4 linked regions of the Homo sapiens genome follow. The protein of the gene in region 3 purifies or fractionates together with the protein of the main gene of each other region. This does not show direct contact. Each region holds a gene or a part of one and is shown on either strand. Other genes may lie near its edges.

Region 1 (7,962 bases), on a different chromosome or scaffold from region 3:
GCTGCAGGCTTTCACCTCCCAAAAGGAAATTCTTTTTAGCTTAGACAGATGTGGTATTCAGGATGTACATAAGTTGAGAAAAAAAAGTTGATTGGAAATTCAATGGAAGATAGCGGTTTTGGAGAGTTTCATTTCATAAACCTGCCCTAAGGAGACATTTTAAAAAACAGGGAATGGGGGGTGGGGCGCAGAGTCCCTTTAATTCTTAAGAATTGTTTCTTGTGACACCTTGGCTCCACTTTCCAGAGAGGTAGTTGGCATCTGATGTTGAGTAGGGTCTTCTAGCTCAAACCTGGCGATTGGTCAGAGCTTTCTCAGAGGGCAATTTGTTAACCCTTTTCTCCCCTAGGTGGCCAATACACCTTTGCCCGCCCTCCGTGCAGGCTACACCATCTATTGCCCGCCCTCCACTCCCTGTGAAAGGTTCTCGCCAAGTAAGGCCTACTACACCGCCCAGACTTGAGGGTCTACTTTCAAGAGAACTTACCTGCGCTGCCTCAGTGGGTGACATAAGCACACTCTGTGAAACCTCACAGCGCCCAGTCCCGGAGAGAAAAAAACGAGCGCCCAGAGCCGAGGGGAAGGGAGAGGGAGGGAAGGAGGAAGAAAGAGGAGGATGAGAAGAGGAAGAGGAAAAACAATGAGAAAGAAGAGAGAGAGATAAGGAGAGAGAATGAGAAACAGGTTCACATACAGACAGAATGAACGAGCGTCCTCTTTCAGATGGAGAAAAGAGTTAGAGACACACTCTGGGAAAGACCTGCCACGGGGACACACGTAGAGGGAGAGAGAGAATAACTCTTCCAAAGACACACACCCCAGCTCTGTTCCCCTCCAGTCTGAGCTCCCTCCCAGTGCTTGACCCTCAGTCGGTCCATCAGTCTGTGTGTGTTTCTCTCTTTCTCCCTTCCCTGACCTCGAGACAATACGGAGATGGTATTTTCGGGAGCCGCGCGGGGCGGCAGGGTTTTCAGCGGCGAGCCAGGCTCACAGCTGGCTCTGTTTGTCCAGGTGTGGGCGGTGGAGGTGGTGGGGGGCGTCAGTCGCCCTGAATCTTGGGCCAGCGCAGCGTTTTCGCACCAAAGAAGTAGGAGGCTCTGCTCTCGAGCTTCCCGCTTCCAGGAGAAAACTTCCTCCCTCCATACATACATAAATACACTTGGGGAAGAGACAAATCTTCATTGTTCAGAAATAAGCTGAGGAGGCCCGCCTGCTCCCCTCAGCCAGGCAGAGCGAGGCAGGGAGGGAGGCGGGGGCCGCGCGGATCCGGTGTCACGTTGCAGATTCCCACTAAAGATAACGAAACGTGATCTATTTTTCAGAACAGCAAGTGGATGGGAAAGAACCTTGACAACACAAAACTCATTTACTAATGGACTGGTTTTGGGTTTCTCTTCTCTGAGTCCGCAAATCTCTCTGCCTGAGCCCCAGGCCTATTCAGACCTCGCGGGGAGCGGCGTCCCCCAGGAGCAGGTGGGCTGCTGCTCCGGCGCCACGCCGGCCATCGGAGCCGGAGTTCCCAAGGGTCGAGGGCACCCGGAGTTTCCGACTAAGCAGAGGAAAAAGAATTTTGGCACTTCAGCCGGATTTGGGGAGTCTCCGCACTGCCCCAGAGCGATGACACGAATTTATTGAAGAAACACCTCTCTATGCCCTCCCTTTCCAAATATTTGTAGGTAGAGTAGAATCCTCACCGTCGTTCTGGATGGTGAAAGAATTCCAAGAAAGCGGCCCGGGAGCCCCTAACTATCTTGCTACAAGCCAGAAGGGAAACAAGTGGGTCCCAGCTAGGGGTGTTTGCATCAAGGCCTGTCAACCCAGCCGAGAAACCCTAGCAACAGCTAATGCTGTCCCACTGAATGCTTTTTCATCGACTAAAGCGCACGCGGCCGTTACCTGCACAGAGGAGGCACTGGAGAGCCGAAACCTGGCATCGGGCGCTCCTTGCCAGCGGTGTTCCCTCCCGAGCCGCGCTGCAGCGAGGGCAGCAGCCGGCTGGCTAGAGTTGCTCATTTCCTTTAAATCTCCAACGCATCTCTGCTTTTCGTGCGATTTGCATTGACAGCAAAGGTTTTATGTTACGAGAACAACTCAAACCTTTCTGTGTGCGATTTAAAATGGATCATTTAGTTTAGGTGGTTTGTAAATTCATGTCATTTTACCTCTTTCAGCGGTTTTCAGTGAAAGGTTCCATTTTGGGAAACCTTATATATCCGAGCCAATAATTAACATTTATAACAATTGGTTCCCCTAACCGAGGGATCGAAATAGCAGGTAGACTCCTTGGTATAAAGCGCATAGCACTTTCCCTTTCCAGTTACGCGATCTATTGGATTAAGCGGGAGGAAAAATGTTGGCCGGCCCAGTCACGGCCTCCGAGGAAGAGCACCTCTTTTCTGCCCGGGTTCCCGCAATCACACCTTCTACACGTCGTCTTCCCAGATGACGGCAATGTAGTACGTCCTGGTTCCTTTTGAAGACAGATAAAAAGAAATGGGCAGGTAGGTCTGGAGGAAGCCGGGAAAAAAAGGTGGTCCTATTTGTGTCTAATTGCCATCTCTGCTGTCATCCTCTGTAAATTTATACCTGCCCTTATTTGTGCAGGCTATGCCTCATTTCCTTATACAAAATTGTTAATTACAAAGCACACCCCATACTCAACATACTGTTTGTCTTTTAAGAGACGTGGTTGTGCTTAAAGACCCTCCCCCCATTGTAATTGTGCGCACTTGCTCCAGACTTTAGGGTATTAACTGATTTTTAGAGCCGGGTTTAAGCCTCCGTTCCGGTCCTCACACAGCTGCCATGTCAATAAGGACTGTTTCAAGCAGAGGCATTCCTTCTGGGAGGGCACTGCAGCTCCTTAAGACTTCATGTGAAACATCATAAGCACTAAAATAAGACAGTGAGGGGAAATTACCAGACATGGCTCTGGGTTTAGCAGTGCCAGGCTTCCAGTTTAGAAAGTCATTGGGCATACTATATGGCAGAGGCTCTTTTGAAAGCATGCACACCTATTAAATGCATTTTTTTAAAAAAAAAGCCTAAGGTAATGAAATATCAGCATCTGCTTCCAAGATCTAATTGCATGGAATAAGCAAGAGTTTCAAGGATGCAGAAAACATTATGTTCAGCAGAGAAGCAGCTTCCTGTCTACTTGGAATCTCCCATGTGGCAGCCCTGAGGTGGGAACCCTTTATGAGTTTAGAATGTATGTTGCAGGGTGCACTGTACTGGGTGCATCATTTTAAAACCATATTAATAATAAAAGAGGAAACCAAGACATGCTTCTCCTTCTCCCACTTGCATCTCAATATGCAAAAGGTTCTGTAGTGCTGGGCTCTTTGGCTAAAGGAATCAAAACATATTTGAAGAAGACAAGCCAGTTTAAGGAGCCTACAGTTTGTTCTTCACCACTCACTAAGAGGGCACATTGAAATCAAAAGCATTTTTGAAGTGTACTTAGAATTCTGTTTTGAACTTATCTAATCAGAGATAAGTATAGTCATAAAGTCACTCTCCTTCCACCATTTGGCTTCCCTTATCTCCACGCATTGTTCTTATCTCCTGCTAGTCTCAGCTACTGACAATAGATTATCTTTGTTTAGAGAGGCTAATTGTTTTCAAAATCCTTTTAATTATTGCTTTGGAACTAGGTGTGCAAATGAGGCTTAAGATAATTACAACTTCACTTGTTTGTGCAGTTTTACTAAGCATTCTCCACACATAAACAAAACAGCAGATGATGGGACTTAAATTGCAGTGCATCTCTCATTCCCTGGCAGCAAAATAGGCCAGCATTGCAACACACACACACACACACATACACACACACACACACACACACACACCTCTTTATTTAATCTTCTTGGAGCCGCTGTCGTTCTCGCTTTGAGGGCAGTGTCCCTCTCAGAGCAGGGTAAGGATTATATTACAACCGGACGGTTATTGGAGCCGGGCACAGTTTTATTTAATTTACACCACATCCAGCGCCTTTCGTACGAGGTTCCCAAAGCATTTTTGCTAATAGCAAGTAAAGCCTCTCGGCATTCCTCAGTAGCAGAGGTGGCACTGCAAAACACAACCGCACAGATGGGGAAATTGAGTCCAGAAGCTTCAGGAACCTGCTGGTTTCAATCGCAGAACATTAAGATACCAAATCACAAATGAACGCTCGGAGTCTCTAGGTGCTCAGCAAGTATGCTCTAAACAGCTCTCTGCCTGGTCTCAAATCATGGAGGTCTTTTGTGAACGAGGGAAACGCTGTCCGACTGGGAGTACTTGTGCCCTTTGGAGGGTGGTGTGCAGCAGTGGGGGGAGGACAGTGGTAGTTGGTGGGGGGAGGGAGGAGGAAATAGGGTTGGACTCCTCGAGCTGAAGCCAACCCGAAGCCACTCTTCCAGAGGCTGCATGCGCGGACCCTGGTCTGCTCTTGAATTATTTATCGCGTTCCATAAGCTATTCATCAATCCATTATTTATTCATTCCAACATTAAAGTAATTAAATATGAGCTCACCGGGAGAGGGCAAGTCTGCAAGGGATGAGGACAAGAGTACGGAGGGAGAGGGGAGGAATTAAGGTTTGGAGTCATTGATTTGTGCGGAGTTGTGCGCGACTCCCCTTAGGTGATACTGGCGACGGGTCCCGCGTTGCAGGGTCCTGACGCGCTCACCCACTCCCTACCTCCCCACACCTCCGCAGCGCAGCTCCCTCAGACCCCAACTGGCTTCCCACCTTTCCTCTTCCTTCTCCTCCCACCACTCCCTACCCGCGCAGCCCCGGCAACACCCCCAACCCCCAGCTCCGCAGCCTCGCCCTCCCCGCTCTGGGCGGTGCGGCCTCTCTGCCCAGCCGGGCGGCGCGCTGGCTGGCCAGCCCCGGATAGGCGCCGCCGGCAGCCAATCAGCGTGCCGGGGACGCTGCGCGCTTTAAGGCCGCTGCGGGGAGAACAGAAACCAAGTTCCCCGGCAACTAGCAGCATCCACCGGGCGGGAGGTCGGAGGCAGCAAGGCCTTAAAGGCTACTGAGTGCGCCGGCCGTTCCGTGTCCAGAACCTCCCCTACTCCTCCGCCTTCTCTTCCTTGGCCGCCCACCGCCAAGTTCCGACTCCGGTTTTCGCCTTTGCAAAGCCTAAGGAGGAGGTTAGGAACAGCCGCGCCCCCCTCCCTGCGGCCGCCGCCCCCTGCCTCTCGGCTCTGCTCCCTGCCGCGTGCGCCTGGGCCGTGCGCCCCGGCAGGCCCCAGCCATGTCGATGCTGCCGTCGTTTGGCTTTACGCAGGAGCAAGTGGCGTGCGTGTGCGAGGTTCTGCAGCAAGGCGGAAACCTGGAGCGCCTGGGCAGGTTCCTGTGGTCACTGCCCGCCTGCGACCACCTGCACAAGAACGAGAGCGTACTCAAGGCCAAGGCGGTGGTCGCCTTCCACCGCGGCAACTTCCGTGAGCTCTACAAGATCCTGGAGAGCCACCAGTTCTCGCCTCACAACCACCCCAAACTGCAGCAACTGTGGCTGAAGGCGCATTACGTGGAGGCCGAGAAGCTGCGCGGCCGACCCCTGGGCGCCGTGGGCAAATATCGGGTGCGCCGAAAATTTCCACTGCCGCGCACCATCTGGGACGGCGAGGAGACCAGCTACTGCTTCAAGGAGAAGTCGAGGGGTGTCCTGCGGGAGTGGTACGCGCACAATCCCTACCCATCGCCGCGTGAGAAGCGGGAGCTGGCCGAGGCCACCGGCCTCACCACCACCCAGGTCAGCAACTGGTTTAAGAACCGGAGGCAAAGAGACCGGGCCGCGGAGGCCAAGGAAAGGTACGCGGCGTGCTTCCCGCGACTCGGGCGACCCTAGGAAGCCGTCCTTTCTCCTCCGCCCCCTCCCGCCCCCGCAGGCACCAGCCACCAAGTCCTCCCCGCCGGCCGGAGCCCGTCCACGGGGCGGCGCGCAGGCCCTCCGCGGCGCTGCAGCGAAAGTTCATGAACTCTGAGGTTCCTTGCTAAGGATGGGGCCTCATTTGCTTTGAGCACCCGCGCGTGGGTTTCTCTGGGATGTGAGTGTCGGGAAATATTGGCGCTAGATTTGGTCTTTATGCCTCCCTGGCTGGCCGCGGCTATGAGTGGTGGGTGGAGAGTGAGTTTCTAAATCAACGGGCAGTGAAATGTTGATTGGTGTCGCAAGGAAAGGGGTTTGGTGGGAGCTGAGGTTCGCGAACCTCTCTCCTCTTGCTCCCCAGAGGGGTGAAGCTGGCCTGAGACATTGGCTCTGCCCCCACTCCCGCCTGGTTCTCCACAGCTCTCTCTTGATAGTCTTTTGGTTTAGAGGTAGCCTGCTTCATTTCTCACTAGCTGGACAAATGGAGGAGACTTTTAAAGATACAACAAAAAGAGAGCTTTGGGGAGAGTTGGCGCTGCATTTACTCCCCGGCGCCCCAAATTAAGAAAGGGTTGATCCTCGCCGTGCTCGCTCGCGCGTGGCCCGGCACTGCAGCCCGTCGGTCTGGCTGACCGCGCCGCATGCCCAGACGAGGAAAGGGTCTCCAGTCGCAGCCCTCTCTCGCACTGGAGCTCACAAGGCAATATTTTAAAAATTGGTCTCTACTTTCCCCCACCTCGGGGCAACACCTTCGGCCACCTGGGCAGGCTCCTTCTGTTCTCTATAGCGTTTCGGACAGAGATTCAGAAGGACGGTGGGGAGGTGGCTGTGGCGGGGAGAGCGCTCCGCGAAGCCAAAGAGTTTGGGGGAAAACCTGAGCGCAGGGGCCGGTTAGGTTTTCCTTTGTTCGCTTCCAAGACTAGGGGCCGAAGATCTTGCTCCCTTTCTTGTCTTGGTGGAAAACCAGAGCCAGGATAAATTCTGCTGAAATGGGCTTGTCGGGAGACAGAGACTGTGAGGATAAGGGGAAAGAAAGGAGACAGACAGGCGCTAGGAGTCGGGAGGACTGACGAGCACTCGGAAGGCGGAAGCGGCGAGGGAAGCGAAATCCTGAAGTTAACCGGTACCGAGTGCCCGGACTGACGCCCCAGCGCGCCGCGCCCGCTGGCAGCCTGTGCGGGGCGGCGAAGTTTCCCCTGCCCAGAAAGGATGGGTTGGGGTGGGTGTTGGTAGGAAGTTTGAGAGGGGGACACGAGGGGCTGAAGAGTTAGCAAGTAACACAGGAACAGGGATTGTATGGTTGCAGTTAGCCTTTAGTTACAAAACGGCCGTCCTATAAGCCAGGCCCGAGGGCCGACTCCAGATGAAATCAGAGACTGGCTGCGCTCCCTGTGTTTACTCAGGTCACTGGGCCGCGCTGGGCACCACTTCCCATGACCTGTTCTGTGTCTGCAAAACCACCAACTCTGGGCTGGGGCAGGAAAACGGGATGTTTAATTGTCTCCTCATATGCGAACAAGGCAATGGACTTGATTCACCCCAAACATTTGTGCATTGGACTCTGTCCTCTATCATTTCTTTATCACCAATATCTATTTATTGAAAGATTTTCAGTTACATTTAAATATGTTGCTAGTTTATATGTATTTAAATGTAACTGCTTGAACAAAATTTAAAACATATATTTTGTATGTTTCAAATAAATCCTGCTAATCTATCACTTTCTGAAATCTGGAAGAGAAAAGGACCTGGCTCCTAACAGGAGGCTCTGTCCGTAGCTCTCCATTTCTCCAGGTTCCTCTGACTCCTCACCTCCCCCATTACCCTTGGGGATGGGTGGAAGGGTAGAGCTCCTCCATTTGGGTTGGTGACAGATTGCACAATGGCCCTTTCCTCCTTCCAGCTCCCCTCCCTCCATCTCACACTTTTTTTTTAACCTACTTTTTTTTTTTTTTTTTTTTTTTAACCATATGGTGTTGTCCTCTATTTCTTAGGGAGAACACCGAAAACAATAACTCCTCCTCCAACAAGCAGAACCAACTCTCTCCTCTGGAAGGGGGCAAGCCGCTCATGTCCAGCTCAGAAGAGGAATTCTCAC
Region 2 (7,292 bases), on a different chromosome or scaffold from region 3:
CAGGTGTGAGCCACCACACCCAGCCCAAACTCACTGATGAATGAAGAAATCTCCATTCTTGATGGCAAAACCATCAAATATATTCAAGCAAAGTGTAAAATTTTGTGCTGCACCTGATTTTCTTCAATATACTAAAATGGCCAAAGATTTTTACCTACACTCATCACTGTCTTCAAGCTGGAAGGAAAAGACACAGAACAAGCAGCTTGGTTTTTTGCTCTTCACTCTCACACAATCCCAGCCTCAATCCTGTTTTCCCAAATCACAACACAGATTGATTTTTATTTTTATTTTAGATTCAGGGGGTACACGTGTAGGTTTCTTACATGGATATATTGCACGATGTTGAGGTTTAAGCTTCTATTGAACCCTTCAACCAAATAGTGAACATAGTACTCAACAGGTAGTTTTTCAACCCTTGATCCCCTTCGTCCCTCCCACCCCTTTTGGAGTCCCCAGTGTCTGTTGTTCCCATTTTTATGTCCACATGTACCCAATGTTTAGCTTCTACTTTTTTTTCCCCCCTATCATCCAGGCAGCAGCCTCAAACTCATGGACACAAGCAATCCTTCCACTTCAGTCTGCCAGGTAGCTGTAACTACAGACGCTCACCACCATGCCCAGCTATTTTTTTTTTATTTTTTGTAGAGACAGGGTCTCATTATGTTGCCCAGGCTGTTCACAAACTCCTAGCCTCAAGCTATCCTCCCAGATTGGCCTCCCAAAGCACTGGGATTACAGGTATGAGCCACTGCACCCAGCCTAGCTCCCACTTATAAATAACATGCAGTATTTGGTTTTCTGTTTTGGATTAATTCACTTAAGACAACAGCTTCCAGCAGCAACCATGTTACTACAAAGGACATGATTTCATTCTTTTTTATAGCTGTGTAGTATTCCATGAGCAACACAGTTTTAGACAGCATATCAATACAACAGACTCAATGTTCACAGCATGGCACACATAGGAAGTAGAAGCAAGTATTCATCAATTTTACAACACATTTGGCAAAACCAGTGCTCTGGGATAAACTCTACACACCTTCAGGTCTAGTATTCCATTCCAATGTAACTGACCATGTTTGAGTCTACTTTGAATTGCTGGCAGAATGAGCTCTGAGTGTCAACTGGCTAAAGGAACCTGGATCTTGGTGTGGATTTCACAGCTGGTCCTACTGGAGGTATGGAATAGCAATGTAGCTAGCTACAGGCTACAGATGTCATAAAAAGCCACTGTTGCTTCTATATAATCTGTTGAACTTGATGCTCTAGAGGCAAATATACAGAAGACATGCAGAAGTGGTTTTCCAAGTCAATGCACTATATTTGATTGATAATAATTCTGAAGCAGACTCCTGTGACCTGGTTTGGGATGGCTCCAAACATAGCCAAAGGAATTTTCACTAGGTATATACAACTAAAAAGTCTCCTACTTTGCAATATCAGGAAGAAGATAACAAACATTTACCAAGGATTAATTACTCACCAGGTGCTTTCTGGCACATCTTATCTCATTTAATCCTCACAACAACTTAGTCGACTTTTTATAGTCAAGTAGCTAATAAATGGAAGAGCTAGGATTAAACCTGTGTCTAGCTATCTGATCCTCAAATCCACATCCTTTCCACTAAACCACACCATATCCTGTCTACTTTGTTCTGAGAAATGTGCTTTAAAATTTCAAGGAATTAAATGCAACATGGTCTCCTGGATTGGATCATAGGACAGAAAACAGACATTAATGAAAAAAAAAACTGGTGAAATCCAAATAAAGTCTAGAGGTTAGTTAATAGAAATGCGCCAATGTTAATTTGTTTAGATAAATATAGCATTATCATGTAAGATGTTAAAATTAAAGGGAACTAGGTGAAAGGTAAGTGGAAACTCTACTATTTTGGTAACTTTTCTGTAAATGAAAAGCATTCCAAATAAAAAATATATTTTTAAAAAAATTTGGCCAGGTGTGGTGGCTCATGCCTCTAATCCCAGCACTCTGGGAGACTGAGGTGGGCGGATCACTTGAGGTCAGGAATTTAAGACCAGCCTGGCCAACATGGTGAAACCCCATCTCTACTAAAAATACAAAAATTAGCTGGGTGTGGTTGGCAGGTGCCTGTAATCCCAGCTACTCGGGAGGCTGATGCAGGAGAATCACTTGAAACCAGGAGGGGCAGGTTGCAGTGAGCTGAGATCATGCCACTGCACTTCAGCCTGGGCATCAGAGAGAGACCCTGTCTCAAACAAAAACAAACAAGCAAACAAAAATTCAAGGAAGTTCTGAATCTCAGTTATTGTCCTGAAGCTTGGTACCTAACTGGATGTTTCCAGTGGAGTAGAAACACATGGTCTTGGCCGGGCGCGGTGGCTCACGCCTGTAATCCCAGCACTTTGGGAGATCGAGGCGGGCGGATCACGAGGTCAGGAGATCGAGACCATCCTGGCTAACACGATGAAACCCCATCTCTACTAAAAATATAAAAAATTAGTCGGGCATGGTGGCACGCGCCTGTAGTGCCAGCTACTCAGGAGACTGAGGCAGGAGAATCGCTTGAACCCGGGAGGCAGAGGTTGCAGTGAGCCAAGATCACGCCACTGCACTCCAGCCCGGGCAACAGAGTGAGACTCCATCTCAAAAAATAAATAAATAAATAAATAAATAAATAAGCAAATAAATAATATGGCCTTTTCTGTTGTTATAAATTTTAAATCTACCAGCGATGTCAACACATTAGGGTAATGCAAAAACAAGTTAAATCCTACATCAAATGACATCTTGATTGACCAGCAATAAAATAAAGCCTGTCTACAAAAAAAAAGAAAATCTCACCAAGTTTATCATGACGGCAGGTGACCTAGACAGCTGCTTTGTAATATGCTGAAGTAGGCAGCTATGAGTAGCTGGGAAGCATACACAATACAAGGCCACCCTGAAGCAAAGGTTAGGATGATGTCATTAAAATGTTGAATTTTGAGAGGCCGAGGCGGACGGATCACGAGGTCAGGAGATCGAGACCATCCTGGCTAACGTGGTGAAACCCCGTCTCTACTAAAAAATACAAAAAAAAAAAAAAAAAAAAAATTAGCTGGGCGTGGTGGCGGGCGCCTGTAGTCCCAGCTACTCGGGAGGCTGAGGCAGGAGAATGGCGTGAACCCAGGAGGCGGAGCTTGCAGTGAGCCGAGATCACACCACTGCACTCCAGCCTGGGCGACAGAGCGAGACTCCATCTCGGGGGGAAAAAAAGTTGAATTTTGAGAAAGAGCAGCAGCAGGCAAACCCAACTGACCTACAGTAATCAAAGAAGCAGAAATGGATCATCCCTTTTGGAATTAAGATCTTGTGCAAATTACAAAGGAAAGAGACACAACTGCAAACAACAAAAGACTCTACCCCCACTTCAGCATCAAACCAGAGGGCAATCTGTCTATGCTGTGGAAAAGGGCTTCTGATCCTGCACTGATCTGGATGACACCCGCACATTCAGTGTTTCTAGCCTATCATCGTTAAAAAAGAAATACTCATATACTTACATTAAAAAGTTCATGTAGAAAACTTAAATTTCCATATTTAAAGCTTAGATCTCTTCCACACGACTCATCCAGGATAAACTTATGGTTTAATATTCTACATGTTTAATTATACCATGTTCAACTCAGTTGGGTTGCCAGCCCTCCACGTGGCTTAAGGTTAAGTACATTTTTTGAAGGCTTCTTGTTTTTGTCTTCTCAGTGTGCTATTTATGCTGCTAATTATAAGGTTTTCAAGCATTTTTCCCTCTTTGGAATTTTAATTTACTGTAAATGCTTGCCCCTTAGAACATTTCCTAGTGTCATTTTATTTTTGACCGTTTTGAATACAAAATCCTTGATAAAGACATCCAAAAAGAGGGAGAATGGGGAACAGGGACATACTGGGGGGCTTCTGAATTGTCCTCTGAAGTTTTGTCATCTAGATGCTGAGGGTGGTCTCTTTGTTAAAAATTTAACCATCCAGACCTTAAGGCCACACAATTAATATTCCCTCTGGAATTGTAGGGCCTCTGTTTGAAAGAGTTGTCCAGTTTTCAGGCCACATTAGGTAATTTCCCGCCCAGGAGCGTGGCTTGGAAAGAATGTCGGTGTTTTCCTTCAGGTATAGGTGCCTGGGGGTCAGGAGGGGAGGGAAAGGCGAGGGGTGGAGTGGGAGGCGGGTGATCGACAGGGATAGAAACTGTGTCTCCTCCTCCCTCTGAATGCGAAATAGCCAATGAGGTGGCTAGGCCGGGCCGGCCCGGCCGCCACTGCCATATAGTATGCAGCAACCGGAGGAGTCACGTTGGGGGAACGGCAGAAAGCAGCTATCCGTTTACACTACTTTGCTCTAACAGCTATCTTAATGGTGACTGCGTGGCCGGGGGGAAACCTGATCGGCCAGATACAGCCGAAACCAGGAGGGAGGGAGTGGGCTTTCCGGAGGGGGAGAGGAGGGAGGGAGACGAAGGAGGAGGAGTAAGAGAGGAGGAAAGAAAGAGGAAAAGAGTGCGAGGGAGTGAGGGAGGGAGGAAAATAAACAACAAAAAATGTCCTCTTCCTCCCCCACCGGGCAGATCGCAAGTGCGGCGGACATCAAGCAAGAGAATGGGATGGAAAGCGCCTCGGAAGGGCAGGAGGCGCACCGAGAAGTGGCGGGGGGCGCGGCGGTAGGGCTGAGCCCCCCGGCTCCAGCCCCTTTTCCCCTGGAGCCGGGGGACGCCGCGACCGCTGCCGCCAGGGTGAGCGGAGAGGAAGGGGCAGTGGCGGCGGCGGCGGCCGGAGCGGCGGCGGATCAGGTACAACTCCACTCGGAACTTCTGGGCAGGCACCACCACGCCGCCGCCGCCGCCGCGCAGACCCCGCTGGCCTTCTCGCCCGACCACGTCGCCTGCGTGTGCGAGGCACTGCAGCAGGGGGGCAACCTGGACCGCCTGGCCCGGTTCCTGTGGTCCCTGCCCCAGAGCGACCTGCTACGTGGCAACGAGAGCCTGCTGAAGGCGCGGGCGCTCGTGGCCTTCCACCAGGGCATCTACCCCGAGCTCTACAGCATCCTCGAGAGCCACAGCTTCGAGTCGGCCAACCACCCGCTGCTGCAGCAGCTCTGGTACAAGGCGCGCTACACCGAGGCCGAGCGAGCCCGCGGCCGGCCGCTGGGAGCCGTAGACAAGTACCGGCTGCGCAGGAAATTCCCCCTGCCCCGCACCATCTGGGACGGCGAGGAGACGGTGTATTGTTTCAAGGAGAAGTCGCGCAACGCGCTCAAGGAGCTCTACAAGCAGAATCGCTACCCTTCGCCCGCCGAGAAGCGGCACCTGGCCAAGATCACCGGCCTCTCCCTCACCCAGGTCAGCAACTGGTTCAAGAACCGCCGGCAGCGCGACAGGAACCCCTCCGAGACCCAGTCCAAAAGGTGAGCGCCAACTTTCCTCCTCCTCCCCCTTCCTCTCCCCCACCCCCTTCCCGGCTTTCTTTTCCTCCAAGTGCTCGCAAACATGGCGCTTACCTTCCCCACCAGCCTGGTCCGGCTGCCCACCTCTCCCCGCCCCCTACCTCGCTCCCCGGCCGGCAGAGGTAGGGGGCGGCGGAGGCGGGGGGCGGGGGAACCTCCCTCCTTACCCTCCCCCTCTCCCCCCAGAAGTTTCTGGTCGCCCGCCTAGGTCTCAGTCCCCGCCCCCACCTCGGCTGGTCACTGCTGCCCAGCTTCCCACCCCCATCCCGCTGGCTTTGAAGTTGCCACCCTCTCCCCGTTTCTGGAGGGGCTAACGAAGCAAATGTGGACACCGGCACCGTAGCTCTCCCTGCCGCCCGAGGCCCGCAGAGACTGCCGGCGCCGGCCGGGGTCTGCACCTCCGCGAGGTCACACCGGGCCTGGCGCGCGCGCACGCTCCCGGATCCCCAGGGTTCAGCCGCCCCCCGGGCCTGCGCTGGAGGTCGCGGTGGCTGCTCTGGTGAAGGGAAGAGAGTGTTGTGGGACTGGCGGCGCAGAAGGGGTCTCGGAACGTCGAGGTTTCATATGACAGAGTTAATCATTCACCCTGCCCCTATGGTTCCCTTAGCGGCCGCGGCAACGTGGGGTGCTGGTGCAGCTCGGCTCTGTCATGTTTTGAAACCTGATTCTGAACTCCTTAGGATCGGGTTTCAGCGCAGCCGGGGTAGCAGGGCTGAAGGGCTGCTTCCTCCCTCGGCCCCCGAACGCTGCTTGGCTCCCTCCTGGTACGGTAGTTATGGGTGGGGGGCAGGCCGGCTTACGGCGGGCGGCAGCAAAGGAGTGGGGGCGCTCCCACCCCACTGGGTTTGAGCTTTTTGCCTGGCAGACTGCTTTCCCCCTCTGGTAAAAAAAATACCGGATTTTCCACCTCTTTTGTGCGTCCTCCCGAGTCAGACACTTGGTGTGTGCGTCTGTGTGTTTTGTTGGACGAAACAAAGTAAGGAGAAGGTCGCCTAAAGACCTGGTGTCTCCAGCCCCGCGGGGATAGGAGAGAAAGAATCCAAAAGCAGCTCGAAGGTTCTTCTCGGGGAAGCAAACTGGGAGCCGGGGATCCAGCCCGCCTGCGCCAGGTGAAGGTGATCACCAGCGCATTCCAGAGCCGGTCTCAGCCCGCCCTTGCCGCTTCTGGGCCCCTGTGGGGGTCCGACGGCTCGGGCTCCGGCGTTCCTCGCCCAAGGCTGGGAGGGAGGCTTGGTGCCCTATCCGGCCCTCGCGGTAACCAAAACAAAAGGTGCACCGGGATGTGCGTGCGCCTTCCGCAGATATGCGGAGAGGTCCAGAGAAGGCGCTTTGGTTACGCCGAGCCACCTGCCCTGCGCCCACTAGAGGCCGCGGATCCCGCGCTCGGAAACCAACGGAATCCGCAGGGCCGGGGCAGAGGGTGGCAAGGGGGCACCGCGAGCAGGCCAGCTGCTCCGCCGCCTCCGCTCGCGAGCCGGGCACGCTCCCTGGGACTCCCCCACGCTCCACTGCTGGCTTCTTCGTCCCCCCCGCCCCACCCCATAAACTCCACACCCACCCCGCCGCCGGCCCAGTTGCCTGGTTTAGGCCCCTCTCCGGATCTACCTCCCACCCGCACCCCCGGTGAGTCACCCTCGCAGACGGCGACGGCGGCTCAGCCTCAGCTTGTAAATCAAAGCGCTTTCTGCGCTCCTGGCCCCGCAGCCCAAAGCCCGGGTAATCCCCTCCCCTCGGCATGAAAGCGAACCGACCGCGGGGCACTGCGGGGATGTCGGATCCTCTGCTGGGCCAAGTCCTGCTGCGCTTCCAAAACGCCTCTGTTCTGCTCTCGTTT
Region 3 (7,571 bases):
ATATATGTGAGACGTTTTATTTTGGAAATGAGAAATTCAATTTCAAATATTCAACAAATACTAATAAAAAGAAAACAACTGAGTAAATCTTATTTTAGTTATAATTGTGAACCAACCGGTAGTTACAATGGTCTTTAAATATTGAAACATACTATTTTCAGGAAATTTACAAAGGAAAACAGGCTTTTGAAAACCATATTGATTGTAGACCTTTACTTATTATGAAAGACAAGTACATATCACTAATAATCAGAGAAAGGAGACATTTTCAACAAATCTAATTATGTTGCTTTCAAAGCTGTAGCTGTCAAAGGTTTTAACATTCTTGTACAGTCATTCCTAAATACGGGTTTAACTTTGAATGACTTACAACTTTTAATCAGGTGGAACAAACTATTTTTACGGTTTATAACAATAAATGTGGGTGTAGTTATGTCTGCTTTCGATATTGTTGCCATAAAAATCAGATTCTGGCAGTCTTGCTCCACACAAAACAATCTGTCTCTTGTTACTACTGCTTTTTGTTTCTTGGGATAATGTTATTTTTAAAAATACACAAATGTCTTTGAATGCAGTCTCCTAAAACGCTCCGTATCACGTATCAAATATTTTTTGGGGGGATTCTCTCCCCACCCCCTCTAGTTTTTGGTTCTTCAGGTTTAAGCTTGCCAATAATATTTTAAAAGACAAAAAAAAAAAAAAAGGCACTGATTCTGCTTAAAACCAAACCGTACCCGGGAAAGGAATTCAAGTACAATCCCTTCCCTAAGGTTTTAAAAACAAAAACAACGCAACAAACAAAAAAACCATCGTCAACTTTCAATCCTGTCAGTCACCTACGTGTAAGTGAAACTTCAGAAGCTGCTGATGGGGAGCCCGCGGTTGTTAAACGCTCCTAAGACTCCCACCTAAATCCCGCAGGAGCCCGCACTGAAACTGACAAACACCCGAGGGTTCACAAAGTGGCCACAGATGAGAAGAGGAACAAAATGCCATATTCCAGGAGGTGTATTTCGCTCCAACAATTACGTTGATCCCAGGGTGCCAAGCCAAAAGGGGTAAGGGAGAAAGAAAACTGTTAAGTATGAGCCCTTAATGTGAAACCTAACCTGTTGGTTCTCTTAGGTATCAGATTTTGGAAGTGTCTGTAATGACAGCCAGGAAAGCAAACTAATGGCCAACGGCCCACTGGGTTTGAACACCAGAGTCCTGTTACCTCCTCACAGATCAAGTACACAACACACACACACACACACACACACACACACGAAGTTGCTCCACGTGGAACTGCTCTGGAACCAAAACACACGCCCGGGCGCTATTCTGCACCTTGGCAGAAAGGGCAGAGGGACCTGCACCTTCCTCCCCTGCCCTCAGGTTAAGATTCATGAATGACTCTCTAGGCCCGCTCGGGATGGCGGGGAGAGGCGCAGGAGACGCGGTGAGAGAGGACAGTCTCCACACCACTCTCCCGCACACACTCTCACCCCAGGCGCAAATCCGTTGTCTTCATAGGAAGGAGAAAGAGGGGTGGTGGTGAAGGGAAACACTATCCTCCCAAGCAGGGAAGAGATGACAAAAATTAAATTGCGCTCTCTGCTTTCGCCCCAGCTCTGCCACCGGACTCGGTCCGCAAATTCCCTAATCGCTCCGAGCTGTTCAGAATCTCGCAAACAAAGGGAGAAAACTCTTTCAAGTGCTACCAAACGAAAGTTCGGGTTGCTGTGCGGCGCAGAATAAAACAAGCACACACACGTCTACTTCCAAACCTCGCTTCACCACGCTAAAAATCCGAGCCATTTCAAGTTCCACTGCCTCCCCAGACCCAGCAGGCTTGGAAGGAGAGAAAAACCTGCTCTACCCAGCCAGGTCCCTTCCTTTGGAGAAGTTATAAGCCTTCCATGGCACCCGCTACTCGAGCCAATGAACGCGACTGCTCTGACAAGGCGCCTCTAATTTCACCGACCCTGGCAAACTGCAGGAGACATTCAGTCCACGCCACATAAAAACTATTAAAGTGGGATCGCCGCAGTTGAAAAGCCCGATCAGTGCCTGGAGATTAGAACGCGAGCCTTTAAAGTACACACGCACCCGGCACCGGGAAAGCCCAGGCGCCTGTGACCCTCCGAAGGACTCTGGGTCAGCATCCTCGCGCCTGGACCATCTAGGGGGTCATCAGAAAGTAATACACGTCATAAGAAAGATGTGGGGGAGACCCCGATGCTCGCGCCTCTGCCAGGTGGAGGCGGGGTGCAGGTAGAAGCCGCGCGCTGGACTGCTGGATGAACTCCGTTACGCGCAGGCTCCGCGCCGACCCCGGAAGGGACAGGCAGGCTCGGAAGGGACCCTTGGGGCTTGGGGACGTCTTCTAGGGCAGAGAGCACCGCTGCGGTCCGAGCGGCCCGGGCCCTCAGGCGTGGGGCACCCGGCCTCCAAGCGCCCCCCGGGGACGCAGGCGCCCACGCACCGTCCAGCTGCGCGTCCTCAGTACCCAGCGCTCGGCGTCCCCGGCGGAGCCTCGCGCACTTTCCCGGAAAGTTTGGGGGTTCTCTCAACTCAGGCTCCCCCGGGAGCCCTGGGGCGGGGGTTGGAAGAAGGGGTCACTCACCTCGTCGCCCGGTCCGCCTCGGGTTCCCGAAGTGTCTGTCCCAGCCGCGGTTCAGTGCGTCCGTAATTAAGTATTTATTCTCGTTCCTTCCAGTGTCGAAGTTTCCCCTTCGCGCTGTGCCTCTGGTGAAAACAGGACATCCCCTTCGGCCACCCCACAACAAATAGCGTACACAAGCGGGGGAGAAGCGGGGCGGAGGGAGAAGCCGGCTCCGAGGGGGAGGAGGAAAGGAGAGGAGCCAAAACTCCGGACTGCGACAGGGGGGAAAGGAGAAGAAAAGAAAATGAGAGAGCGCGCCCAGCCGCCGCAGTCGTCACTCCCCGGCTTTTCCCGCAGCTCTTTCCCCCTCTCTAAGGCAGCGACAACTTCACGTGGACAGGATGGAAGTTTTGCGCGGAAGCCGGGAACGGCCGGAGCGTGCGCCGCGCTGCCGGCAGCCTCGCACTTGCGCAGGGAGGTGGGGCGGGGGCGACGTCGCCACCGGCTACTGCGGGCTCGTGAGGCCGCCGGGGGCCTCGGGGGAGGCCGCCAGGGACGCGGGGGGCGGCGGCGCGCGGGGGACCCACTCCGTTTTTATTTGACCTCGGGTGACTGCCTATTGTCATGGTTTGCGATCTCGCGTGGGGACCGCCCAGGGCCTCGGGGCCCTGGATGTCCCGGGTGGCGCCGCCGTAATCTCCGTGCCCTCCGCGCCGCCCCCACCCCGCCCCCACCCGGGCCGACTCGAGCGGCTGCAGCCTCCAGGCTGAGGGGAGGGACCCGCGACCGCGCTCTCCTCCCTGGGCCGGAGAGCCACTGTCGATCCCCACCTGCTTCTGTGGGGCAGCCCCCGGAATTGCCTGGAACTCTCTCGCTACCCAGTTCCCCTGTGCAGGCCACTGCGGGCCCCCTGCCGGACTCCTTTCCACTTACCCCAAGGGAGGAGACAGAAGGGACTTCGCCTACTTGCAACAACGTGAAATAAAAACCAACCCAGACCAGACTGGGGCGCTTTTTCTGACGGGAGGAAATACCCTTTTCCGTGGAGATATATGTTATGAAGGACTAAGCGGTCTGGGGATAGGCTGTGCTGCGAAGGGCCTGGGCCCCTTCCAGTGCTGCTGGGTGCAGGTATAGGCATCCGTCCCAGACGCCCAAAGGTCAGGCAGCAACGACTTACTTCCAAGGCGGCGTCAGAGCTTCTCTAGGCACATTGCTGAAATGACATTTCGTGTCTAAGCCTTCTGCGCATGCACTACGCGACTACATAGGATTTACGATTTTATACCCACACGTGTGTATGCCACAACCAGGGGACACAGCAAAGGTAGACGGAATAAACAATCCATAAATTTTGCATCCATTTAATCACCTCTTCCAAAAACCTATTGTCTATTTTAGCGGCACCTTCTCTGTCATATTGATAATAAATGTTTTAATTTATTGATAAATCACTGAGTGTCAATCATTGTATTGGTCACTTATGGTACATGAGTTCATTTAACTTCCATGACAACTCTACGGTGGTCATTATTAAGCCGGTATAAAAGATGAGGAAACCAAAGCCCAAAGAATCATGAGTGACTTTTCCAAAGACAAATCCAGTGGTCTCTAATCACAAAGCCTATGATACAACAACCTCTACATTACCTTAGGTGTGGTCTAAGAGATTACAGATTAATCCGTAGAAATTACTCCCATTCAAAGAAAGTTTAGTTTTAATATATTCACTAAGTTACGTTCTGAAAAAGGTTCAGAAAAAAGATTTCATCCTCTACTTTAGGTTGGTCTTATGCAACTGATATGAGCACTGTCTAATTCAAAAGCAGTATCAACCCTGAATACTTATGGTTACAATTTATTTTTTAATGAGTGGGGAATTATCTACAATGCTTAAGAGGCTCTAGAAAAGGTGGTGTTGTAAATTTAAAATGATAAAGGCAGTCGTTGCTGCTCTCATCACTTACTGGGTGTTCTTTCCTGCAGATTTATTTTGGAGGGTGTAGGCATTGCCAGGCATAATGTTTCCTTTTCTGGTTCTCAAGGTAGAAAGGGTTCTGGCAGTGGGGTTGGCACAAAGCGGATTTGGAGCATGGTTGAGAGCACATTCTGGCCTAACGAGGAATGCCAGTTAATATACACTGGAGAGAAAAATATGAATGGACAGATTTAATTAATTTTGCAGATTTATTTTCTCCATTTCACATGTGAGAAAACTAAGGGCTCAGAATTTTTAGAAGCTTGCTAATAAATGGCAGACCTGAGTTTCAAGCCAGCCTTTATTTAAGTCCACTCTTAGTCACTGTGATGCTATTATTAGTATTAATGGTATTCAGAAAAATAGTAATTCTTTTAAATATGTAATATATTACAAGCCAAATATGCAATTTAAATGTTTTGTGAATCATAGTGTCTAAGAATGTTCTGTGGCTATAGCAAATATCATGTAAGGATTAAGTACAATGATGAATTTAATACTGTCCTCAAAAGGCAACAACATTTTGAATTTCATTTTGGCATAAAACATTATGTGCTAGTTTCACCTACAAATAAAGGTGGGAGATGTATGATTTGAATAAAATAAAAATTCATACTTTAGCATATTGTTAACATAAATATAGGGTGGGTTTTCTTAGCATGTTTCTTTGTACCCTTCTAAAGTCAGATTTTTCAGTTACACTGACCTTGCTTTCAAGGTCACTTTGCTCCTGCATAGTTTTTTGTACATCTAGATAAGAATACATGTACAGAAATTATTTTTAAAATCCAGGATAATATATTAGTTATTTGACTTCATATTACTACCTTCTAATAGTTGTCTTAAATATACATATATTAACATGGACACCACTAGGTGTCAGATAAAACGTCAATTTTCAGTACACATTTGAAATAAGTTTAACATAGGAAACAGAATTTTAGGGTTATAAAGGCAAAAATGTATTGTTTGCTTAAATGAGGCCTTATTTCCAGCATTTACATTGAATATCACTTTTATAATTATAGCCATATCGCCTATATTATTGACTTAATATGTATCTTTAAATAATCTATTTTTATTAAATAAGTTTATCTGATAAAGGACATTTTTTATAGTCACCATAAATGGAAAACTAATAAAACCCGCCATGAATAGAAGATGATCTTGCAAAGGAACCTATATTGTAGAAATAAAAGTTATTTCTCATGTACCACCTAAAATTATCTCACATACAGTTTGAGAAACATTGGTTTAAAGAATTACATTCCATATGTCCCTCAGGCTCACCAAGAGATATTTTCAAGCCTCCCCTTTTCATAACCGGAACAAAATGTTGTGTCCAATTTACTTTGAGGTATTACTTTTTAAATTCTGTGCTTATTTAATTATTGCTTTTCTTGTCTAAAATATACTTGAAGTCTCTGAAGTTGAGGCGTCTTTTTAAAATTCATGTATTATTTATTGTTTTACTTACTATCTTATTTGTGGTAAAATGCAAACAATTCATAAATGCACAATTAAAAAGCAAATCACTTTCCTGAAATATTGTACCGGTTACTCATTACCCTTCCCTAGCATCTATTAGCCCAGTAGTGCAATACAGTACAGACAATGAAGAAGAGAGGGAAAGTAGAACAGTGGGAGAAACGCAAAGGGCCTAGAAAGACACATGGGGGAAATTGAAGTCAGAGACCTGCTGCCAGATTCTTGAAGTGATTCAAAAACACCAGTGGGCCCTGCATGACATGAGTCAGGCTCTCAGAATATTTGTACATGTTCAACTCAGTCTGAAAAGGGATGTGTTTTGGGAGGAGTGGGGAGATAAAAAATATAAGACTTTATAGGGTAAATCAGTGGAAATATAAGATTCACTTATTAGCAATTCCCTTAACCAACTCCTCTGGAATGGGATGCCTCTGCAGTTACCATTTACTATTTGTTTATTTTTCAAACGTGCATGGCACTGTCTTGGCATTAGATTTTGTATAAGTCAAATTAAACAAAGCGCTCTAGGAGCTCATAATCCAAAACATAATTTTTGTTTTAATTTCATTTAAAAGCAACCTTAAGGGAAAAACCAGGCCCTCACTTTAGTAAGAACAGATTTTAGGCTAAAAAATGCTATAAGACACTACATTTATTGAAAAAGAATGCAGAGAACTGGATGCTTGTAGAAATAATCCCAAAGTAAATCTCTTGAGCAACTTTTGGTATATCTATGAACTCTAGCTGGAAATATACACAATTTTTCAAAAATACAATAATTCAGTTGTTTCTTAGTAAATTCTAAGCCAAACTATTTGAGCTTTGGAAGTATGGAGTTTTAAAGACCAACCTTAATGTGAACAAGGTTGAACAGTCTTTTAATCTACCTCTCTGCTGATGACAGACCACAGGAATAAATGAAGATAAAATATGATTGCCCAAGAATCTAGAGTCCTATGCTGCCGGTTTTCTAAAATCTATAAATAAACACACTTTCTGAGTAATTTTGTGCAGACAGATCAAGCTTAAAAAGGTTTCTACTAGTTTGTGAAAGTGAAGAAATCAAATCTTCAGGGGACCTGCTAAATTTCCTCATTCTTGGCAGGGCCTCTGAAAGAAAGGAAATGCACATTTTCTGGGAGACAGCTTCATTATATTTACTTTTAGATTTTCTCTTGAAAATTCTCTCCAGTTGAATCATTTTAGTAGCATATTAGGCAACTCTACTCCTTCTTCCATGCTTACACTCAGCCCTCAGATGTTTATAAACAGATATCATGCTCACTTTTAAGTCATGTTAGCCACGTTAAACAAATAGAAGGCCTTTTAATCTTGTGGCAGTTCAGTCTTTACAAACCCATAATCATTCTTATTGCTTGTCTCTGAACTATTTCCAATTTCCTAGATGTTCATTTTTGTTAGAGGTATCCCACATTGAATGCATTGTTCCAGGTGTGGTCTCATTAACATATTAGAATGAGTCCGAATTTATTTTCTTCGGTTGCATTATATTTTTGC
Region 4 (7,460 bases), on a different chromosome or scaffold from region 3:
GTTGTGGCTGTTAGAATTGGAGTTCTCGTTGTTCTCCCTGCAAGTGCGGGAGCAAAGCAGCGGGGTCAGCAGGGACATCGAGACCACCCAGCGCCATCTCAGTCACAGTCAGAGCCAGCCACCAGCCTCGGGAGACAGATCCCGGGCTTGTGGCCTGCGGGTGTTTTCGGTTTCTACCATTTCCTCGACCTGGTCTGGGTTCTCCTTTCTGCCCGTTCTCTCCATCTCTCAACACCCAATTTCTCTTGCCCCTCTGCCCTTATCGTCCCCACCTCTCATGCTGTCAATCTCATCAATATCTTTTCTATATTTCCTCTTTCCCCCCTTCCCCAATATTTCTTTTCAGGAACAGAGGTGCAGGAGAACAGGGTTCCCTGAAGTTGTGGGGTGAGCCGGGAGGAAGAGACGATGCCTGGATTTTCAGATCACTCTAGGCTCCACAAGCCAGGTTTGCTGGGTAGATGTGGGGCTAGCAGGTTAAGGAACCCTGGATCCCAGGTCAAGGGATTTAGGGCCTCTCACAAGACTTCATTTCCCTTTGCTTTTTCTGCCCGAGGGAGACCCCTGGCTGGGAGACAGGCTCCTGGGGCTAAGCGTCCTTTCCCTGTAGCTCCAAACTGGGCAGCCCTGTGAGGGCTCTCCTTGCTGGGCCTAGAGACAAGGGTCCAAGGATGGAGGACTCCCTTTCCGTGGTGGTACAGTGAAAACGTCAGCTCGGAGACCAGAAGCTTGGGGGATAAAGGGCAGCCCCTGGGAGAAGGCCGAGGCTTTTCCATTGTAACCAGCCACTCCGGGAATCTGCAGCTCTCATCTGGGGCCTGGTCTGAGAACCCAGGTTTTCAGGAGTCTGATCACATGCCGGTTTGGGTGGAGGGGGACCCAGCAGAGAGAACCCACCTCCTTCTATGCCTTTGACTGACAGCTCCTCCCCAGATTTGGATATTTAAAATCCTGGGTAGGATCTCTTGTCACCAGCTTCGGGAGGGTTTTTCTTTCTGCTTTCCTGGGAGGGAGCTTCCCACAGGGCTGGCAGCTGAGACCTCACCACTGTGGAAACTCCAACCTCAGGGTCTCAGATACCTGGAAGTATCTGAGCCTGCAGCACTCCCCCTAAGATGTTTCTGGTTCAGCACCCTCACCTCTGACCCTGATCATTCAAACTCAGGGTGGAACACACCCCATATCACCAACCCCAGGTGTCCTGTTTTGCTCTTACCCCGGGCTGGATTCTGTTCCCATAATAAGTTTCTCTCCAGGTTTGAGGTCCTGAGGGGTTATAGGGCAGGCAGTGGCAAGGGCCTAATGATCAACCTTTAGGCTGGTTCAGGAAGTCCTGGTTTACCTGAGGACATCCAACTCCCAGCCCCTCTGTGCCTCTCAGCTCACCGCAGACATTCCGACCTACCCATCAGAGGTAGGGCCTAAGGAGAGAGGCATCAAGGGCCTGGAGTGCCAGGGAAGGGCGGCTATCTCTAGCAAGGCAGAAAACAGGGCATGCGTCTCTTCTCTCCCAGAACTGACACTTCCTCCCTTTCACCTCTGGATCCTTTCTAAGGAGATAAAGGACCCGCTCTCAACTCCATGTGACAACGAAAATTCATGGCCTGGCTTTTCCCCATCCAGGTCATTCTAGGGAAGTTCCAGCCCCAGTCCCGACCCCATCACACTTTGGCCTGGAGCTAAGGCTGGGGGGAAATGCCGGGAAGCACCACCAGCAAGAAATCTGCAAATCCCCTTTCATCTGGGCTCAAACCCCTCTGTCCTGAGGATGACCAGACCTACTGTGCCTGCCTCACAGGGGATACAGGCCCACAGTTCTGCGCTGCCCCGAAGCTCTCTGCTTCTCCACCCTTTTCCTCTAGCGACCGAGTAGTTAGTTGACAACTTCCTGAATTGCTCTGCCCGCTTTAGACAAATCCCTGCTCGCCGGGTCTCCGGCATAGAAAGGCCTAAGCATCGTCCAAGTCAGGCCGGGCTGCCGCTGGGCTGTGGCCGGGCCTGGGGGCCCAGTTTAGGCCTCTCCGGGGGACCGGCAGAAGCCCTGCGAACCCCTCCCTTGGGCCCCGGGGAGCTGGCGCCGAAGAAGGTCTACTTACTCGTACCTTTCCTTGGCCTCGGCCGCCCGGTCGCGCTGCCGCCGGTTCTTGAACCAGTTGCTGACCTGTGTGGTGGTGAGGCCCGTGGCCTCCGCCAGCTCACGCTTCTCGCGGGGTGAAGGGTAGGGGTTGTGCGCGTACCACTCGCGCAGCACGCTGCGACTCTTTTCCTTGAAGCAGTAGCTGGTCTCCTCGCCGTCCCAGATGGAGCGCGGCAGCGGGAATTTGCGGCGCACGCGGTATTTGCCCACGGCGCCCAGGGGTCGGCCGCGCAGCTTCTCCGCCTCGATGTAGTGTGCCTTGAGCCACAGCTGCTGCAGCTTGGCGTGGTTGTGCGGCGAGAACTGGTGGCTCTCCAGGATCTTGTAGAGCTCGCGGAAGTTGCCGCGGTGGAAGGCCACCACGGCCTTGGCCTTGAGCACGCTTTCATTCTTGTGAAGGTGCTCGCAGGCGGGCAGCGACCACAGGAAGCGGCCCAGCCGCTCGATGTTGCCGCCCTGCTGCAGCACCTCGCACACGCACGCCACTTGCTCCTGCGTGAAGCCGAAGGTGGGCAGCATGGACATGGTGCCGGCTGCGTCCCCGCCCGCCCGCGCGCGCCCTCACCGGGCCGCGCGGTCCCGCATGGGAGCTTCCTCGCCGGGCCGTCCGGGCCGAGACGCGGGCGGGGCTGGCCCCCTGGCCCGGCACTGGCCCCCGGTGAGCCCCGAGTCACTGCCGTACGTCCCCGCGCCGGCCGCGGGTCCCACGAAGCTCCGAACCCCAACGGCCCGCGCGCCTGGCCCAAGCCCTCGCCCAAGCCCGGGGGCCGCCCGGGGCGCCGCTCCGCATGCTCCGCGCCCGCCCGCCGTTCCCTCGCTCGCTTCTCACTCGTTCTCCCTCCCGTCTAGCTGGCTCTCAGCTTTCTTAATAATATTATTCTAAGCGGGCATGAGGCGCGGCGGCCCGCGCCCTGATTGGTCCGGTTATCTGACCCGGGGCCTGCCAGCGCCAGACAATAGTCGGAGTCAAATTATTCGCCATGGAGACGCTGTCAGTCACTGGTAACCCGAGCCTCGGCGGGCCGGGCGGCTCCCCCCGGCCGGCTCCGCTGACAGATCGCCCCGCTCCGCGCAGAACTGAGGGCGGCTCTACTGGAGCCTGGGGCGCTCTGAGAGCCTGGGAGGCGGAGAGGGGCCGGGTTGGGGCCGGCGGCGGCGGAGATTGACGGGGCGGATGCCCAAAGAGGGAGGGAGGAGGAGGACAGGAGAGCGGGGGGAGCGGGCGAAGACGAAAAGGGGTGGATCGAGGTGGGGAGAGAAGAGGAGAGAAGGGAAGGCGGAGACCGTTTAAGGGGGTGTCCAGGAGGAAGGGGAGGGAGAGGGGTGGAAGGAGACTCCAGGGGAAGAAAGTTTGGGCAGCTTTGGCTAGGAGAGGGCTCTGCAGCCTCGCCCAGACCCTACAGGGTTCCCCTTCTCCCCAGGTCACCGCGTCCCTCCCAGGCTCTCTGTTCACCGGGCACATTCTACCCCGGCGCAGGCCAGTGGGATGGGAGAGTTTGGACGTGCTCGGGTGCCGCCCAAAGACTTGGCTTTTTCTGCTGACAGCGCCCCACCCCCATCCTAGAAACTCTGGACTCAGCGGTCCTCGAGGGAAAAGGGGAGGGAGTAGACGAAAGAAATGGGGAAGATTTGGCAGTGGCCGCAGGCGGACGCCGGAGAATCGACTTCCCGGAGGATCCCGCCTTTCCTCCCTCTCCTAGCCCCGCCGGCTGCCTGGCGGCCTGTACCGCCCCAACTCTGCGCTCTCTGCTCCTCGCCGGGCGGGGACTCAGACTTAACCCCACGGGTCCCACAGCCCGAGGAGCGCCAGGCAGTTCCGTGTGGCCTCTATGGAAGCTGACTCCGGCCGGCAGCTGCGACGCAGAACCCCGGACGGCGCAGACCCGCAGTCTGCCCACCGGGGCGGGGGAGAGGGGCGACGGCAGGGACTCTAGGACGGTGGTGGGGCTTCCCCGGTGGGTGGTCGGGGAGGAGAACGGAGGCAAGATTCCCAGTCCTCCCGCTTCGCCGCTGGGGATCGGCTCGGCTCCTGGCCACTCCAGCCTGGGAACCGGCTCGCTGAGCTCCGGGATGAGGTGCTTTAAAAGGGGGTCCTGTTTTTTGCTTCTTTGTCAGGGTGCCAATGGAAACATGTGGTGCTGGTCCTGTGGGAGAAGGGCTCGCACAAAGGTGGGAGAACTGAGGATGGGTGTGTTCTTGCTCTACGTTTTGAAAAGCCCGGGGCTTAGCTCCTTCCCGGACATGTCCTTTCCACTTCCTTCAGTTTCCTCCTCTTCCCCCCTCAGCTGCTGCAGGCCAGGAGCTCCTAGGGCCATACTCAGTGCCTGACCCAAGCCAGCACAAATCCTGGGCTCTGCCCTCAGCCAGTCTAGGGCTATGGAACCCGAGTCTAGGCCAGTTCCTTCTTTCCCACCCTTTTATGCTTTCTATGGAGTTTGTGCTAGGAGCGCGGAATGGGAGTCTAGAGCCCTGGGTTCAACTTTTGGTTTTGCTTGGTGTCTATGGTAAGGCATATATTTATGCCTTTGTGTTTATTTCCTTCTCTGCAAGATTTCAAAAATTTTCCCTGTGCTGCAGCATTCCGGAAGTCCTTTGGGAGTGTTGTAGGCATGAGAGAATGGAACCCTGGGACTCCTCTTAAGACTTTAGCTTCCAGGGGCCTACCCTGGCATGTTGAATGAGGCCACAGGGCTGACAAAGTAGGTCCCAAGCCAGTGCGGGTGCAGAAAGGGGAAGCTTTCTGCAGAAATCCAGGTGGCATCTTTAGAGTCTGTATCTGTGGGCTGGGAGGAGGTCTGCTGTGTCCAGGCCACCCTATCCAGAGTCCTATGCACTGCTGCACAGGGGCTGCCCCAGAGTTGGATCTAAGGACCCTGGGAGACATGGAGAAGAATTTACCGCAGACTGTGATGAGGTTCAAAGCCCAATTTGCTGACCTCCAACAAAAGTGCAACGTACTCTTTTCAGCACGTCTCCTTCAGCTACGTGGTTAAAAGGATTCACCTGGCTGGCTGGTCCCAGCCCTGGCAATGGCCATCTTACATCTTAGCGTGCTTAGGCTGGGGCTGCAGAGGAGCACCCTGGTCTGGTGTGGGTGAGTGAGACCAGGCAGTCACTTCCTGGTATGAGACCCTGGGCCAGTCCCCAGTCTGCTCTTCATTCTCTTCCACTATTAGATTGAAGCCTGGGTAATCTCTCAAGTTCCTGCTGGTTCTGGGATGGGGTGGGTCTAAGAACACTAACCCTGAAAAAGCATACAATCTCTGCAACCTCAGCCACAGCCTTCACCATGAATGTGCCACTCCTCTGACCCATGAAGCTTTAAGATTAAACTTCCCCCAGGACTGGGTCCCGCCTATGTTCAGTGAAAGCAGATTTTTCTGGAGCTTCAGACTCACTGTTCCTCCAAGTGCTGCCCTCTTTGCAGCCCCTGGGCCCTAAGCCCATGAATCAGACCTGCCAGGAGCCTCCAGGCAACACTAAGCAGCACAGAGAGAACAGAACAGACATGGGGCCTGCCACCGTGGATAACATACTGTGTGCCATATGAAAAGTCATTACAGAGGAAGCACTGAAAACCTGGAGCACCGTTACCCGATGTATGGGTGTGTGTCAATATGCCCCTCATTCTCCTCCTCCCCCATGTATGTAGAAAACTGGTTCCAGCACATCTGGGCCAGAACCTCTTGGTAGCAGCAGTAGCTGGGTTACATGCTGAATGAGGGTCTCCTCACACTCCTTAGCCCCTTCCCTGCCTGGCCCATTCCCCGATAGTCTTTGCCACAGAACAGAATACTTGGGAGGTGTCTGGATGAGGATTTAATAGCCAGCCTGAGCCAATGACAATCTCAGCCCCCTAGTTGCAGTGCCCAGAGCAATTGCTGAGAGGCCTACGGGGTGCCGAAACTTTTGGTTCTACCTCACTCCAATCTCCGGAATCCCTGTCCTCCTTCCTGTCCAAAGACCCATTCCCAAGAGGCTTGTGCTTGCTTTTTATCCAGCAAAAACGGGAGAAACTCCATGGCTAGGGGGAGAAACCTTTTCGGAACCATGGAAATTTGAGCTTTACTGAAACACCTCCTTTCACCTCCAAGCTTCCCTGAAGTCCCTGGGAGGATGAGACTTTCTGGAAAGCAGCAGCAGGGGTGGGTGGGTGCTCCCCAGTGATCTCAGGCTGATGGAATAGCTTTGTCCCAGACGAATTGTCAGGGACAGTTTGGGGTCTTTGTGCCTGGAGTTGGGCAGGAAGCGCCCAGGACAGAGCCAGAAGGCACCTACTGTCCGGCGCCCATTGGGCAGCCCAGGGCTGGCACACCGCGCCCAGCGGGTGCACTTCTGGGCAAAGGAAGAAGTCAGCCCACTGGCCTCCCGAGGGCTTCCCTGGTTTTGGGATGGGGCCGTTTCGCAAAGAATAGGGTAATCTAGGAAGAAGGAGCTGCTCTCTGGCTATTTCCAAGGCCAGCGGATGGGTAGGCCTTTGTTCTGGGCAAATCAGAAACCTTGTTTGTGACAGAGGGAAAAAGAGAAGGGGGCGGGTGCTCGGTGCCAAGTCAGGGGACCAGAGCTTTTTTTTTTCGGTTTGTTTTTGATCTTTATTTTTCCAGCCTATAAAGGCGGCAGAAATCCCCTGGGTAGACTCTGGCCCTGGCGCCGCCCGCCTCGGGCGCTCCATGCTGCTCCGCACCTCGGGCTCTGGGATGCTCCGGCCTGGATGGAGGCTCTCCGCCCTCTCCCAGCTCCGAGCGCCCCAGCCGACATGGGCCTGGCGCGTTCCCCAGACAGTCCCGGAGTTCTCTGGGCCTGGGCGACGTGTTTCGTTGAAAGCGGGCAGGTGGTGCCGGGCGGGGCTGCGCTGAGGCTCCGGTGCCTCCCCACCTGCCCCTCGTACCTGCCGGTCTGTCGGGTCCCGGCGGACGCAACCAGCTACTCGCAAACCCTGCACCAGCGGTTTTCCGTGTTGTCCTAAGAGGGGCAGGTCAGGGCGAGGCCAGTCGGCTCACACGAATTCTCTGTGTCGGAGAACACGCCCCGCGACGTTCCGAGCCCGGGCAAGGTTGAGAGGCGCTGGGCTCCGGGCGGTCGCACTCTTGGAACCGCGCGAACCGCGGCGTCGCCCGCGCCGCACGTGGCTGGGGCAGTCACAGGCCCCGAGAGCTGGAGCAACGGGGTCACCGCCACCCCTCTGCCCTCCAGGCCTTCACCTTGAGACCCACGCGGCAGCCTGGAGGGCCCACAAGAGCAAACGGTTTAGAGGCCGCGGGCTCACGAGGGATCTTGTTCAAACGAAAAGAACGAGCACAGGGGCTCGGGGCCAGCCTGGAGG

What was found.
Region 1: the proteins of EYA4 (region 3) and SIX1 purify together in Homo sapiens (affinity purification with mass spectrometry; 4 studies listed by BioGRID and IntAct, with this or other methods). This does not show direct contact.
Region 2: the proteins of EYA4 (region 3) and SIX4 purify together in Homo sapiens (affinity purification with mass spectrometry; 2 studies listed by BioGRID and IntAct, with this or other methods). This does not show direct contact.
Region 4: the proteins of EYA4 (region 3) and SIX2 purify together in Homo sapiens (affinity purification with mass spectrometry; 3 studies listed by BioGRID and IntAct, with this or other methods). This does not show direct contact.

Annotation. Positions count from the first base shown.
Region 1 is NC_000014.9:60,646,474-60,654,435, reverse strand, and holds the start of SIX1 (homeobox protein SIX1), read left to right. Parts: upstream 1-4,958; 5' UTR 4,959-5,246; coding exon 5,247-5,806; intron 5,807-7,858; coding exon 7,859-7,962. UniProt on the Homo sapiens protein: Transcription factor that is involved in the regulation of cell proliferation, apoptosis and embryonic development. Plays an important role in the development of several organs, including kidney, muscle and inner ear.
Region 2 is NC_000014.9:60,721,339-60,728,630, reverse strand, and holds the start of SIX4 (homeobox protein SIX4), read left to right. Parts: upstream 1-4,279; 5' UTR 4,280-4,372; coding exon of another isoform or gene 4,373-4,375; 5' UTR 4,376-4,556; coding exon 4,557-5,419; intron 5,420-7,292. UniProt on the Homo sapiens protein: Transcriptional regulator which can act as both a transcriptional repressor and activator by binding a DNA sequence on these target genes and is involved in processes like cell differentiation, cell migration and cell survival.
Region 3 is NC_000006.12:133,236,787-133,244,357, reverse strand, and holds the start of EYA4 (protein phosphatase EYA4), read right to left. Parts: upstream 2,702-7,571; 5' UTR 2,609-2,701; intron 2,140-2,608; coding exon of another isoform or gene 1,947-2,139; intron 1-1,946. Other genes in the region: serine/arginine repetitive matrix protein 1-like, read left to right, coding at 1,947-2,139, 2,702-3,572. UniProt on the Homo sapiens protein: Tyrosine phosphatase that specifically dephosphorylates 'Tyr-142' of histone H2AX (H2AXY142ph). 'Tyr-142' phosphorylation of histone H2AX plays a central role in DNA repair and acts as a mark that distinguishes between apoptotic and repair responses to genotoxic stress.
Region 4 is NC_000002.12:45,006,449-45,013,908, forward strand, and holds the start of SIX2 (homeobox protein SIX2), read right to left. Parts: upstream 3,005-7,460; 5' UTR 2,663-3,004; coding exon 2,103-2,662; coding exon of another isoform or gene 2,097-2,102; intron 38-2,096; coding exon 1-37. UniProt on the Homo sapiens protein: Transcription factor that plays an important role in the development of several organs, including kidney, skull and stomach.